Homo sapiens: one gene and its partner. The protein of the gene in region 2 interacts with the protein of the main gene of each other region in a pairwise test. Each region holds a gene or a part of one and is shown on either strand. Other genes may lie near its edges.

What was found. The genes of interacting proteins can lie anywhere in the genome.
Region 1: the proteins of CCDC120 (region 2) and CTBP2 interact in binary tests that used the Homo sapiens proteins (3 or more experiments, as listed by UniProt).

What each region holds. Positions count from the first base shown.
Region 1 is NC_000010.11:124,989,564-124,996,563, forward strand, and holds part of CTBP2 (C-terminal-binding protein 2), read right to left. Parts: intron 5,121-7,000; coding exon 4,906-5,120; intron 4,423-4,905; coding exon 4,292-4,422; intron 3,767-4,291; coding exon 3,639-3,766; intron 3,250-3,638; coding exon 3,132-3,249; intron 136-3,131; coding exon 1-135. UniProt on the Homo sapiens protein: Corepressor targeting diverse transcription regulators. Functions in brown adipose tissue (BAT) differentiation. Isoform 2 probably acts as a scaffold for specialized synapses.
Region 2 is NC_000023.11:49,061,974-49,069,111, reverse strand, and holds part of CCDC120 (coiled-coil domain-containing protein 120), read right to left. Parts: 5' UTR 7,071-7,138; coding exon 7,008-7,070; exon of another isoform or gene 6,995-7,007; intron 6,878-6,994; coding exon 6,787-6,877; intron 6,645-6,786; coding exon 6,511-6,644; intron 5,252-6,510; coding exon 5,111-5,251; intron 4,743-5,110; coding exon 4,448-4,742; intron 4,077-4,447; coding exon 4,014-4,076; intron 3,659-4,013; coding exon 3,484-3,658; intron 3,366-3,483; coding exon 3,267-3,365; intron 1,937-3,266; coding exon 1,022-1,936; coding exon of another isoform or gene 1,000-1,021; exon of another isoform or gene 569-999; coding exon 454-568; 3' UTR 1-453. UniProt on the Homo sapiens protein: Centriolar protein required for centriole subdistal appendage assembly and microtubule anchoring in interphase cells. Together with CCDC68, cooperate with subdistal appendage components ODF2, NIN and CEP170 for hierarchical subdistal appendage assembly.

The DNA.
Region 1 (7,000 bases), on a different chromosome or scaffold from region 2:
TGGTTGGGAGAGGGCGCTTGGGAAGGATGTGCCACTGTCGGGAGGTTGTGAGTCACTGGGATGCCTCCAGGGATGATCCCTTCCATGGCTGCAGGAAGTCCTCCTGGAGCCACACCCACGATGCCTGGCGGATATCTAAGGAACACACAGAAATAGGGCCTTGTAAGTTCAGGGCAGAGTTGCCAAGCTCTTGGCTCTTCTACTTCTGGCCTTTTCATAAGAGACAGGAGCCCAGTGACATGAACATGGCTCACCTTGACCGACCTTCTGGGCTCAAGTGATCCCACCTCAGACACCCAAGTAGTGGCGACCACAGGCATGAGCCACCACGCCTAGCTAGTTTTTGTATTTTTTTGTAGAGATGCGGTTTTGCCAGACTGCCCAGGCTGGTCTCAAACTCTTGAGCTCAAGTGATGCCCCATCATAGGCCTCCCAGAGTCCTGGGAGTACAGGCGAGAGACACCAGGCCTGGCTAATAGTTTTTTTTTTTTTTTTTGAGATGGAGTCTCACTCTGTCGCCAGTCTGGAGTGCAGTGGCGTGAGCAATCTCAGCCCACTGCAACCTCTGCCTCCTGGGTTAAAGTGATTCTCCTGCCTCAGCCTCCCAAGTAGCTGGGACTACAGGTGTGCGCTACCACACCCGGCTAATTTTTATATTTTTAGTAGAGACGGGGTTTCACCACGTTGGCCAGGATGGTCTCAATCTCCCGACCTCGTGATCCGCCCGCCTCAGCCTCCCAAAGTGCTGGGATTACAGGCGTGAGCCACCATGCCCGGCCCTGGCTAACGATTTTTATGGGATAGTTTATCTTCCCTATCCCCAAAGCAAGGAGAAGTCTCAATTTTTATATAAAACACTGGCAACTAATTCATAAAAACAAAACTAGTCCAATCCAAACACGGGGCCACTAATTTTGTAGCTTTTAGATAAGAAGATATTAGCCCATACTATTTATGAATGTGGATACATTATACTATTTAAAAAAACCCACTTTGTACAAAATGGACTCCCAACTGTTCACCAGTTACTTCTGACTGATAAAATGATTTCCCAACAGAGTACAATGGACCCTTAGGGACTCAATGTTTGTCTCCCTCCATCCCCCTAATTCCAGTTCAAATCCCACACCTTAAAGGTGATGACCTTAAGAGGTAGAGCCCTTGGGAAGTGACTGGGTGAGGAAATGACTGGGTCATGAATGGGATCAGTGCCTTTACACAAGGGAGTCTAGTCAGTGCTCTGGCCCTCTCTCTGCCATATGAGGATGTGGGAAGAAGCTGACGGTCTGCTGCCTGGCCGTCACCAGAACCTGACCATGCTGGCAGCCTCATCTCAGACTTCCAGCCTCCAGAACTGCGAGCAAGGCATTTCTTTACAAGCCACCCAGTCTATGCTACTCAATTATGGCAGCCAGAACTCACTAAGCTTTCTAGGCTGGTTGGCTATATACTCCCATGGCCTGAGATGGGAAGTGGTATGCTTGCTGGCTGTTGGCTGGGGGCCCGCCTTCCTCGGAACGCCCAGGCTCGGGCTGGTTTTATATTGCAAGCACGAAGTGCTGTGTGAGGACACACTGCATTCGCCAACCACAGAACACAGGGTCCTCGGGCAAAGTGGGACTCAGTGTATTCACACAGACTTATCATCCATCCAGGTAGAGGAGGAGGCATCTCACTATGGTAGCCACCCCACCCCCAGCTCCTGGCCTGCCATCCTGTCACCAAGACCTTCAGAAGGACTCTGGTCATTAGGGTCCCTTCCTCAGTGCACACATACTGTTCTAGGGGGCCTAAGAGCCCCAGCTTACGTGAAGGATAAATAACAATGGAGACATGGAAGAGGTGGGCCCCCAGCTCCACCCAACAGGGGAATCTGGTGCTGTGATAGGCTCAAAATACTTTTGAGGGCCAAAAGGACGGGGCTGGATGAAATGTGAAGACAGCCATGTGACCTGCAAGCACCGGCATAGCTTCTTCAAGAGTGTCAGAGCCTTCATTACACAAACTGAATGCACCCTGGTCGTCACTGTGGCTACAGCAGGGGACATGTGGCTGGAGACATTCTCAATCATCATGAGTGGGAGTGGGAGGTGCTACTGGCATCCCGTGGGTAGAGGCCAGGGATGCCGCTGAACGTCCTACAATGCACAGGACAGGCCAGGCCTCCTACGAGAGAATGAAGAGAATGATCTGGCCCCAAATATACTTATTGCCAAGAGCTAGAAACCCTGGTTTAGAATATGCAAAAATTTTTCTTAAGATTCAAGGCTGCAACTTCATTCATTTATGCATGAGGGGGCTACTGATTTTCCTGGGAAGCCAGCAATAATGGGGGGGGGGGTGTGGGAGAAAACCGATTCGTGCATGGAAAATACCACAAAAGGAACCCCTTCTCCCTGTGAGGGCTCCTGTCTTTCCCCCACTCTGCGTTCCCAAACATGGCTCCAGTTTCTCAGCTGACCCAAACTACAGGTATCATTTTTAGTGTGTGGACAAGGTCATCATCCTGAGTTGATTGTACTATCCTGAGTTGACTGTACCAGAATGCCTTCTGTGGACATAAGATTCAAATTGGAAAATGAACTTGCTCACAGGCCTTTGCACTTGAACATCTTATCTACGTATACCTTTCTCTTTGAGAAGCCCTTTTTTTTTTTTTTTTTTTGGTGGTGGGGTGGGGTCGGGGGGTAGCAGCATTGTCTCACTCTGTGGCCTAGGCTGGAGTGCAGTGGGTGATCTCGGCTCACTGCAATCTCCACCTCCCAGCTTCAAGCACCTCTCCCACCTCAGCCTCCCTAGCAGCTGAGACTGCAGGTGTGCGCCACCACACGTGACTGGGAAGCCTTCTGGTTTTAAGATGGCTTTAGAATGAAAGGCAGTTCCTAGCACCTGTGGTCAATCACATCTGACCGAACACACCCCCTTTTAAAATAGGAGCTTCTGTTTGTTCCATGAAATTAGGCATTGGAAGAAATGGGGGCGGTGTACACAGTTCCTGCTGAGAAGGCTGATTGTTCTGACCCTGACTTAGCATCTGCGGGAGGTTAAGCTTCCGCCAAGTTTGGGCTTCTCTCCCTGGCCCCGGGGCCGTGGTGCTCACAAGCTGAGACAAAGTCAGTTCCTTTTCTCACCTGTATGTGGCACCATTGAGCTCAGGATGAATTGCTTGCTGGTCTATTACTGACCAAGGCGCTGATGTGACAAAGAATTCCTTGTTCACACAATTTCTTAAGCTTTCTGGGATGCGACCTAGGGTAAGATGATTAAAATTAATCATATTATTTTTACAAATCACAGTAAGTTCAACATTACACCTGTAGCTGCTTATGTGGGGAAATAAGCATTTGTAAAAATGTAGAACATCCAAAGGCCCAAGTGCTTGAGCTCTTCAACACTGACCTTCAGCCTCTGTGTGCCCCCCGACCCCCGAGTTTATAATGTCTGGGACTAAAGGGAATGGTTCCCTCTGTGAAGTTTAGTTCAGGGCTTACGTAAATAAACAGGGCCCAACTCATATAAATTTGATGCTAAAAGTGAATTCTACCTGTCGAGAGCTGCCTGTAGCCAGCAGGACAGGAGCCGGCTGCACTGTGGAGCTGAGGCTGCCCTTGGCAGGCCAGAGGCACGGAGGGGCTCACCTGTGATGGCTCGGCGGATCTCGGTGGCAGCTGCCTCCCTCATCTCCAGTGACGCCTGCTCACTGTACCAGGCAGTGTGAGGAGTGCAGATGAGATTCGGGGCATCTTTCAACGGACCCTGAGCAAAGCTAGAAAAATGTAGAAAAAACAGAGTAAGCGGGAAATGTCGCATACGCTCCCTGCCCTCCTCAGCACAAGGGAGCTCTTGGCCATGTAGAAAAGTAGCTACATAGATAGCATGGATACAGGAACATCTGTGATGATATTTTATGAAGGCTGGGAATTTTTGAATGTAATTATCAAAGTTGTGTAAGAACCGTATAATTGGTAGATCAAAAAGCCCAATTCTATTGAAGGCTTGTCCTGCTGTAATCCAGGGCAGAGATGATGCCTGTCTGTCTGAAGACCAGAACCACTGCCACACCCCCACCAATTTTCTGCCTCTCCTTTCCCTGATGACCTCTGGGAAACTTCCAGCCCTTTTACAATTAGAATACAGCACAATCCTTAGAAGAACAGAGACTGTAAATGTCATCTCTGGAGTTTCCTGCCCAGGGACCTGTTTGGGAAAAGGGCCTCGAGTTCAAAGTGTGGGGGTCAGGTGTGGAGCTGGGCCCTGTGGGCTCCTGGTAGGCGGCTGGGGCAACACGCACCTGAAGGGCTCTGACTCATGCACGTCGAGGGCTGCCCCTCGTATCCTGCCCTCCTTGAGGGCTTGTGCTAAGGCTTTCTCGTCCACCAGGCCGCCACGGGCTGCGTTCACAAGGAATGCTCCCTGCCTCATCTGTGGAAGGAAAGAAAAGCCGGTTACAGGCACACTGGCATGGTGGAAGACTCTTGTACCAAGGTTTAAAGAAGAAAGCTGCAAGCTAGTTTTGTTGGTCTGGTGGTTTAATGTGTGTGCTGCAGTTTGAGGGAAGGGAGTGGGAAGTGTTGGTGACGGCTGGAAGCCAGGGCCGTTGCTGCTGATCCTGAGAGGAAGCAACACGGTGGAAAGGCTGGACTGTGCCGAGCTGCTGGCCTCTTTAAAGGTTCTGGGAAGCTTCTGAAGCTGGGTCCTGGCTAGCGCCTGTCCTTCTCTGCTTAGCCTGGCTCAGCCCGAGGAAGGGGCTTCACGTGGCTTGTCACTGGTTTGTTGCAGGGCCTCTTCCCTGCTCAACAGTGTATCCAGAAACCACCTCCGTTGCCCTCCGTGTCCCTCTTGTGCCCACAAGCAAGTGCTACCACCTTTCGACAGAAGCTTCCATGGCATCTATTTTCAAATTACCTGCTTTATGGTAAAGTCATTGATGAGGTGGTGGTTATGTTCGTTGAGATTGCAGTGCAAGGAGACGCAGTCGCTCTGATACAGCAAATCCTGCAGGGTGTAGACCCTCTGCACGCCCAGGGACCGCTCGATCCCATCCTGCAAGTAGGGGTCATAAAATATGACGCTGAATCCAAAGGCCTTGGCTCGAACTGCAACCGCCTGCCCCGTGCGACCTGTACAGAAACAGAGCGTCCAGGTGAGTGAGTCCACAGCCCGCGCCCCAGCGCTGCCACCTCCATTGCTTCTGAGCTGAGTCCGGGCTTGGCATCCCCGCTGGTAGCTGCTGCCAGAGAAACCGTGTGCCCAAAGCTTAGTGAGGCCTGAGGCGAGCACTGCCCGCGAGGGGCCACCATGGCCGGTGTAGGACAGGTGAGGACCGCAGTGCTTGCTGCTTATATTGGGTACAGCAGGATTTTTGTTAAAAACAAAACAAAACCCTTCCTTGTTATTGACATTTTCAAACACAGAGTGTTCTGACAAGCCCACATGCCCCTCCCATCACCACCCGTGTCCTCCGTTCCCACCCCTCTCCCCACTTCTTGTGTGCACTGCAGGCTTCTTAACATGAGCTTTGTGTTTGAAAAACTTGCTCTCAATGTCACAGGGAGTAATGTCCTGCCTCCTCATTGCTGGGCTCGCTCCTGCAAAGGGTGACATGAGCACAATGGCTCCCTGCAGGCTGGCCCGAGTGCAGACTGGCCACATGCTACTGTGTTCTGGGCGGGAGGCAGGGCACATGACCATCAGACCTGGACCTGTCCCACTGGTGGGGCCTCGCGCCCATCTGCATTATGCAGCCTGGGCCTCCCGCCAGCTATGTCACAGGATGAGGAGGTGTCTCCCACTCCCCAACGGCTGTCATTTCATAAACCCATGGGGTCCCCCTCGATAGCACCTCCAGCTTCCCAGAGCAGTTTTCAGCATTTTGAAAACAAAATGGTTAGTGTTGATGCTCGACTGGTTCTCTTGGAGATCACAGAAGGAATCTTTAAAGCCATGGCTCCAAGGTGCAGGCAGGAGAAGGACAAAGATGCGCATTTCCGAGCAGGCAGCCTGTGTTCCAGGGGTACCTCAATGCTGGATGGCTCCTCCTGCAGCAGCTCCATCTAACCGATGGCCTGGCTAGGACAACTGCCGTAGTTTAGAACAAAGGTTGAATAAGGCCAGTCTGATCAGGGACAGCTGCAGGACAACTAGTATAGCAAGGCACGAACCATCACGCCTCTCCTCCTCAGTGTCACCCTTTACAGCAGGCAGGACTGGACGGTGGCAGGGACGGAGTGAGAGATGGCTCTCTGACGCACTGGCAACATGAAACTGAGGACCCCAGCATGCAACTGCTGGGAGCTCACACTTCACAGGACCCCCGCCTGCCTTCCCCCGTTCCTGCAGCCTCCATCCCCCTCATGGCGTCTGTGCACGAACATGCTTCAATCAGTGGGGCTCACACTCTGCAGATCCAGGGCCTGGAGGGCCTGTGGAAAAGCAGCCCAGAGCACCAAGCCCAGATTTGAACCGTGCCGACGGCTATTTCTTTGTTTTTTTTTTTTTTTTTTTTAAAGTTCACAAACCCCTTGAACTTTATCCATGAGATTTTCTGATGACCCAATGACTTAATCCTGCTACTGACTTAATCAAAACCCAGTCCCTACAGAAGAGACCTGCTCCCCCGTCACAGCGCCCCCCCCGGCCCCCCATGCCGCTTATTTTAAAAGCGCAGCTCCCACAGGCTGCCTTTCCTTCAGTTTCTGTCCATGCCCCCAGCCCCAGGCTGCCCTCTCTTGGCGGCACCGTCCCACCCCGCCTGCTGCACTGAGCCCGCTGGGCCTGGGGGACTCTTGCTCAGTAGAACCCGAGGCCAGCAAAAGCTCTTAGCCCAGGATGGCTGCAGCAGCGACAGTCCTGAAGGCTACAGAGACACCTGGAAAGGGAACAAGGAGAGCACGACAGTCCCTGTGCTGAGGATCCAGGGTGGTGGCGGCAGGGGTTAGTGTACAGTCTCGAGAAAACAGGGCGGCGGCAGGGGGCTGCACTGACCTCTATACACCGAGAG
Region 2 (7,138 bases):
CTCCTGGCTGCCCTAAATGGCCCTGAGACCCGATATGGTCCATTTTATGGAGGGGGTTCCTGAATGGAACCTGGTTGGGCATGGGAACAGGAATGAACCCAACCAGATGAGATCACAGTTTCCCTTTTGTAAAACGCCTAGTGTTGGAGGAAGACAGTGAATACCTAAGTCACAACTGTAAACATAAATGGAGGAAGGGGCTTGGGGTCCCCATGACATCATCCCCCCTCTTTTAAGCTAGCTGAGGGCCCCCAGTCCCCAGCACAGTGTGAGAGAAGAAGCAGGGTGTCAGACACCTTCCTGGGCCTACGGGGAGCCAGGGGCCTTGGAAGATTAGGTTGGCGCACTCTGCTCAGGACTGAGAGCAACCACACCCCAGGGCCCAGCGAGGTCAGCTGTGTGCTCCCCAGATTGGAATCGTGCCCAGGCCAACAAGGGACATATCAGAAGGGGTCAGACCAGTGTCCCCGGGGTCTGGGTGTCAGAACTGGAGGACTGCTCCCCCTCTAGCGTCAGGTCACTTAAACGAGCGCTCAGCTCCGGGGGATACAGGAAGTCCGCGTAGTATCTTTAGAAGGGGTAGCAGGAATCCGGAGGACAGGGCGGGGAAGACAAGAAGAAGAAAAGACAGACAAGACACAGAAAAAGAAAGGAAAAGAGGCTCGTTAAAGAGGTGGAGGCAGGCACAGGACAGCACTTTCAGGCTCTGGGGCATGGAGAAAAAAGGAAGAAAACAGCAAGGGGCATGAGATGTCCCTTCCTCCCGGCACCCTGGCTTCAAGGCTCATCTTCAGCCTATAACTTGATAAAGAATTGCTGCTACCAGTGCCCAAGATCCCCTCCACCAGGACCCCATGGACTAATGCAGGTCATGTGCAGTAGAGTGACCCTGTGCCATCACAGCAGCTAGTTTCCTCATGGTCCAATTCATTAGCTATCATGACTAGCCACTCCCTGGCCTGGATATCTTCGCCATCTGCCTTACGAGACCCCTACCCATCAGTAAAAGCACCCCCCATACCTGCCAGAGACAGGGGGCGCCGTGAAACTCCTCGAGTGTGGGAGTGGCGCCTGGCTGGGGGCCCCGTACAGCGCCTGGCCCACCTCATAGCAGCGGGCATGGAGGAAGGGTGGGTGTGGCGGGCCCACGGAAGGGAGCACAGGCCGGCGCTGGGGCCCCGCAGCCAGTCCCGAGTTCCGGATGTACCAGTCCCGCAGCCCCTCCAGAGCCAGGTTCTTGTGGCCACTGCGTTCACCAGCCGAGGGGATACGGGTGGGTGGGGGCATCCACAGCAGAGGGTTTGGATGCACCTCAGGGCCTTCGGCAGCCTCTGGGGGCAGGCCACAGGGCTTAGTGCGGGTGGCACGGGTGTGGGGGTCCTTGGTGCGGAGGAGGGGGCTGTTGCTGTCAGCTGCATACACAGGTGGTGGGCCGGGGAGCATGGTGAGGAGCCCATCCCGGCGGGAGAGGGGTCCTGGGACCTCAGCTGCAGGCGGCAGCTCCCCCCAGCCTGTTCCACCGCCACTGCGGGGCAGGCCCCGGTCCAAGGAATAGTCCAAGAGGAAGTCTCCACACACAGGTGGGAGCCGGGGGGCACCTCGGGAGGCAGGGGCAGCTGAGCTAGGCCGGGCGGCCCGGGGAGGGTCTGGGGGGCCTGCTGTGCGGGAGGAGAAGGCAGGGGTTGGTTGGGGGCGCTCATACAGCACCTCACTGCTCTTGCAGACTGGGGGGCCAGAGGCAGAGGGAGCCAGAGGGGCAGGCGGGGAGCCAGCTCCCCCACCAGCGGCCCGGTCCACCAGCAGGGCCTCAGAACTGTTGCTGCGGCGGGTGCGAGCTACGAAGAGGGAGGCGCGATCGGAGGCAGGGTCCGCCCGGGGGAAGCCCATCTGGGAGTCCTGGCTGCCGGACCACTGACGAGAATGAAGGCCTTCAGGTCTGGGGTGAGAGGCGAGGGTCATGGGAATAGGGTCAGAAAAATCAGGCAGAAGGCGTGCAGTGCCCTCCCTACCCCAGCCCTTTCTAAGCCTTCACTTTCACATCTCCAAATGGGCCCAAGGTTGGAAGCTGTGTGTATAAAGGTGGCAGGTAGTGACATGTAAAGGGCAGCTGAGGTTCTATCCTAGGCTAGGCGGTCAGGGGTAGAAATGCGTGGGGGAGGCCTGGCACTGTTAGCTCCAAGGGAGGTGTAAATCTGTGTAGGGACTCAGAGGAAAGGCTAGCAGAGTAGATGCCGGGCAGGGGGCTGTTCCTAATCCAGCTGACCCCTCCCCCTGCTAAGGCCGTTCTCATGGCTCGCACGGCCTCCAGGATTAAGTCCTAGGCCTTAGGGCTCACATGTAAAACCCTGCCTGAATTCTCTATCCGACCATACGTATGAACCACCCAAAGCTACCATCCCAACAGCCACCGTTCACAGAATGCAAGCCCCACAAGGAAGGGGACTTGGTTTTGTTCAGAGCCTGGGGAAAGTAGGCACTCTGTTTAAGAAGCAGAAGAGGACAGTGGTTAAAAGCATGGACTCTAGAGTAAAACTTGCCTGGGCTCAAACTCCAGGACTTCAGTTTACTAACAAGTTACTTAACCTTTCTGTGCCTCACTTGCCTCATCTATAAAATGGGAATAACAATAGCACCCACCTCACAGGGATCTGATTATGATTAAATGAGTTGATGCCACGTAAAACACTAATTCCTAGCAGATGGCAGGCACTCAGTATATGTTAACCAGAACTTATTATGTCCATGTCTTTCAAAGGCAGATATTATTATTTCCATTTCACAAATGAGGAGACTGACTCCTACCCCATTATCCACCGAGATGCCTGCTCACCTTTAATGCCCAGCCTCCCATGTCCCACACCTTTTGTTTTTTTGTTTGTTTTGAGACGGAGTTTCGCTCTTGTCGCCCAGGCTGGAGTGCAATGGCACGATGTTGATCTCAGCTCACTGCAACCTCCGCCTCCCGGGTTCAAGCGATTCTCCTGCCTCAGCCTCCGAAGTAGCTGGGATTACAGGCATGCCCCACCATGCCCAGCTAATTTTTGTATTTTTAGTAGAGACAGGGTTTCACCATGTTGGTCAGGCTGGTCTTGAACCCCTGACCTCAAGTAACCCGCCCGCCTCGGCCTCCGAAAGTGCTGGGATTACAAGCGTGAGCCACCGCGCCCAGCCATCCCACCTTTTGATAATGTTGTCCTCAAGCTTCCAGTGAGAACTAATGGTTCCCTCCCCTCTGATCCTCCAGCCCACCCTCAGATTCCCCTTACTTGCAGAGCTGGGGGCCAGCGCCCCGGGTGAGGACAGGGGTGGCAGGCACACTTCGCCCCTCAAAACTGGAGGCACTCCTGGGCAGCGAGCGTGTGGGGCTAGACAGAGACAGGCAGGCCTAGGTTAGAGACTGTACCCACCAGCAGACCCTCTGCCAGCCCAGGCTTGCTATCCCATTCCCAGCTCCTGCGGAGGGGAGGAGGGGCTCATTCTCACCTGGTGGGGCTGGCCACAGAGTTCCGCCGGCTCTTCAGATCCCCATAAAGATCTGATGGAGGTGGTTTCCATGGGGTTCGCCGCTCAGGGCTCCCCCCAGATACTGCCCGCAGCTGGTCCCAAGCCTTGGGTGGTGAGGGGCGCTCGGCCAGAGAGAAGCAGCCATGGGGCTCCTCTGAGTGGAAGAGAGCAAGTGGGATAGAATTCAATGAGGGGGGCCCAGAGGGGGCAGGACAGGCTGGGGGGCAAGGCCATGGGGAGGGGCAAAGTGCTGGGACAGGTTAAGCAGGCTGAGGAGGAACTAAGGCTGACAAGTAGGTTCTGGGGCTGTGGGGCTGGGGTGGGGTGAGGCTAAGAAGATGGGGGACCCATAGGAAGATGGAGCATGGCTAAGGAGAAGCTGAAGCAGCACAGGAGGGGCTGGGCATCAAAGGATGGGCTGATCATGCAGGATGTGGTCGGATGAATAAAGGGGATGGGCTAAAGGGACGTAGGAGTCGGGGGCAGGTTTGGGGGATAGGAGTCCTCACCGTTGTCATGGCTGGCCCCAGACTCTGAGAGGGAGCTGCTCTCTGAGTGCAGAACTACGTCCTCTACAGGTGAGAGGGGGAGAAGTGGGCCTCTCACTCCCAGGCCTGGGTGCTGCCCCCTTACACCACTGGGTGGGCACCTCTACTTGGGCCACCTTCTGGCCAGTTTCCGCCTCATCCTGTTCCTGTCCCAAGAATCTGCTTTTACCAGAGCCCAAGACCACCCCAGTTTGGTTCCTGACTGTCCTGGCAGATATTCATCAGTCCCCCACAGTTTGTCCTTTCCGGTAAGCCAGTTTGTCACAACTCTTCTCACGGGTTGGGCCACTTGAGTTGTGCCTACCTCCCGGTTTTCACCGGCCAGTCACCCATCCCAGCCCTACCACGTCCATTTGCCAGTGTCCACTCTCCCACCCTCACCAGGGGATGCTCACCTTGGCTGAGCTGAGCAAGACGCATGCCCAGGCAGACTCCCTGGGTGGTGATCACTGACCCCGTGGACAGTGGCAGTGGCTGGGGCAGCGGGAGCACTGGGAGGCCAAGGCGGGCCCGGACATCCCTGAGCTGCTCCTCTAGCTCATGCAGCCTCCTCAGTGCATCTGCCTGGACCTGGCGCCGGCGCCGGCGCTGCTCGGTGCTCAGATCAGGGGCCAAGGCCAGGCGGCGGGCGGCCGCCGCGATCTGCTGTTGCACTGACACCTCGCGTTCCAGGGCCTCAAGAGCCAGCTCCTGTTGGGCCCACCCAAATGTTGGAAATGGCCAGGAACAGGGACCTGGCGGGGCCAAACCCAGTAGAGGCTGGCCTGCACTTCCTGCAGCCTATTCAGACCTATTCACCCCGGGGAGGGGGCGTGTCAGGGCCTCTCTTGGTGAAGGGCTGGGTCTGTTCATCTTCCTTAGGGTTGGAGGCCTGTCCTGACAGTTAGGGACCAGCATCCTCCCTCATCACAGGAAACTAACTCCAGAAGCCCTTTTCCTTCTCATCTTAGCCTCTCCCTCACCTGGCCACAAGCCCCCTCCCCACACCTTCCTCCTGGCTACTCCTCTGTACCTGTCCCCTCTTCCCACCCTCTTGCTCTCCACACCCATCTGCTCACCTCAGCAGGGCACAAGGAGTGGTGTGCTTGGTTGGGGTGCGGTGGAGGGTAGGCGCGGGCTGTGGGGGGCCGCCGGCGGACCAACTGGGGCCGTTCACCAGGCTCTAGTGGGCACTCAGGGGGCAGCTGGCCAGTCAGCTCCTGGTGGGAGGCAGGGGTCAGAGACTACCAAGGGTTAGTTGGAAGGATGGGGTGAAGCATTAATGATCCCAGAAGCTACAGAAGTCCTACCAGGAGCCTGGCCCTGCTCAGCAACCACGCACGATACTCCCCTCCCTCCTACCAGTATCTCCACTAGGCAGGTGTGCCCAAACCTCAGTGGCCCAAACCCCTGGGGTGGTGGGCATGGGAGGCAGGGAGACCTGCTTTGGAATCCAGAATTGTTTTGTTTTTATAAAGGTGATACCATCGAGATCCTAAGTATTATATAACTCACTTCAGGGGCTGTGGCTGCGTGGTCTGAGCTGTAGTATTATTTCCGGCACACTGTGGGCATTCACAGTAAGAGGGGTAAACTGAAACTACAGATCAGCCTGTGCCAGTTCAGGTCAGACTGTGCTGCCAAATTTTGGACAGAACCTGTTTTCTGAGGTTTGTTGGATTTGAAATTGTCAACAGTGGGCCTGTATTACCATATTTTTTTTTTTTGAGGTGGAGTTTTGCTCTTGTTGCCCAGGCTGGAGTGCAATGGCGCAATCTCAGCTCACCGCAACCTCCACCTCCAGGGTTTAAGCGATTCTCCTGCCTCAGCCTCCCAAGTTGCTAGGATCACCACACCCAGCTAATTTTGCTTTTTTTTTTTTTTTTTGAGACAGAGTCTTGCTCTGTCGCCCAGGCTGGAGTGCAGTGGCGCAATCTGGGCTCACTGCAAGCTCCGCCTCCCGGGTTCATGCCATTCTCCTGCCTCAGCCTCCCGAGTAGCTGGAACTATAGGTGCCCGCCACCACGCCTGACTAATTTTTTGTATTTTTAGTAGAGACGGGGTTACACCGTGTTAGCCAGGATGGTCTCGATCTCCTGACATCGTGTTCCGCCCACCTCGGCCTCCCAAAGTGCTGGGATTACAGGCGTGAGCCACCGCGCCCAGCCTAATTTTGCATTTTTAGTAGAGACGGGATTTCTCCATGTTGGTCAGGCTGGTCTGGAACTCCCGACCTCAGGTGATCCACCTGCCTCGGCCTCCCAAAGTGCTGGGATTACAGGCGTGAGCCACAGCGCCCAGCCTATTTCATTCATTCTAACACATCTAAGCTGAGCTTTGAGGAGAAAGTAGGTGACAGGGAATCTACAGCCAAGACAAGTGGTTGAGGAATTGCCACCCAAGTCTGTCTACCTAGGGGCCCCAGCTCCTCACCTCCTCCCAACCTCCCCGCCTGATACCCCTAGGGCCAGGCCCTCACCGCCTCCTGGAGACACACTTTGCGGAGCTCCTGAAGTTTCAGGCTCAGGGCCTCCTGCAGGGTCCGCTGCCGGTCAAGCAGCCCCCGCAGACGCTCTGACTTCACCTGGGGGGCAGCCTCTCCGAACAGGGCAGCTGGACACAGAGGGAGCAAAGATCAGTGGGACAGCCAGGGCATTCTGGAGCAGCTGTGGGGCAAGGGACCAACTCTTCCCGAGCAAGCAGGTGGTGATTCAGAGCAGGGGAGGAGGCAGCAGGAGGGGAAGCAGCCACCGACCTGGGGCATTGAAGGTAGGAGAGCTGATCAGCTGACCTTTGACTTCCATCTTGGTGCTGTCGAGAGGCCGTGGCTGATGGCTGGACAAAGTCTGGCAGTGACACAAAGGAGCCGTTAAGGAAGCACATCCCATGATACCCCAACCCCCAGCCCTTCCCAGCTTCCCATGCCACAGCGGGGAATAAGGGGTAACCTGGGCCCCACGTGCCTGCTTGACCTGCCCTTTCAGAATCCGTGTGGATGTCTGGACCCACTTGGCCCTGGTACCTTGGTTCCCTTCGCATTGAGTGAGAGCACAGCAAGTGGGGAGCTGGGCGGACTTACAACGCCTCCTCAGAGGCCCATGGGTCAC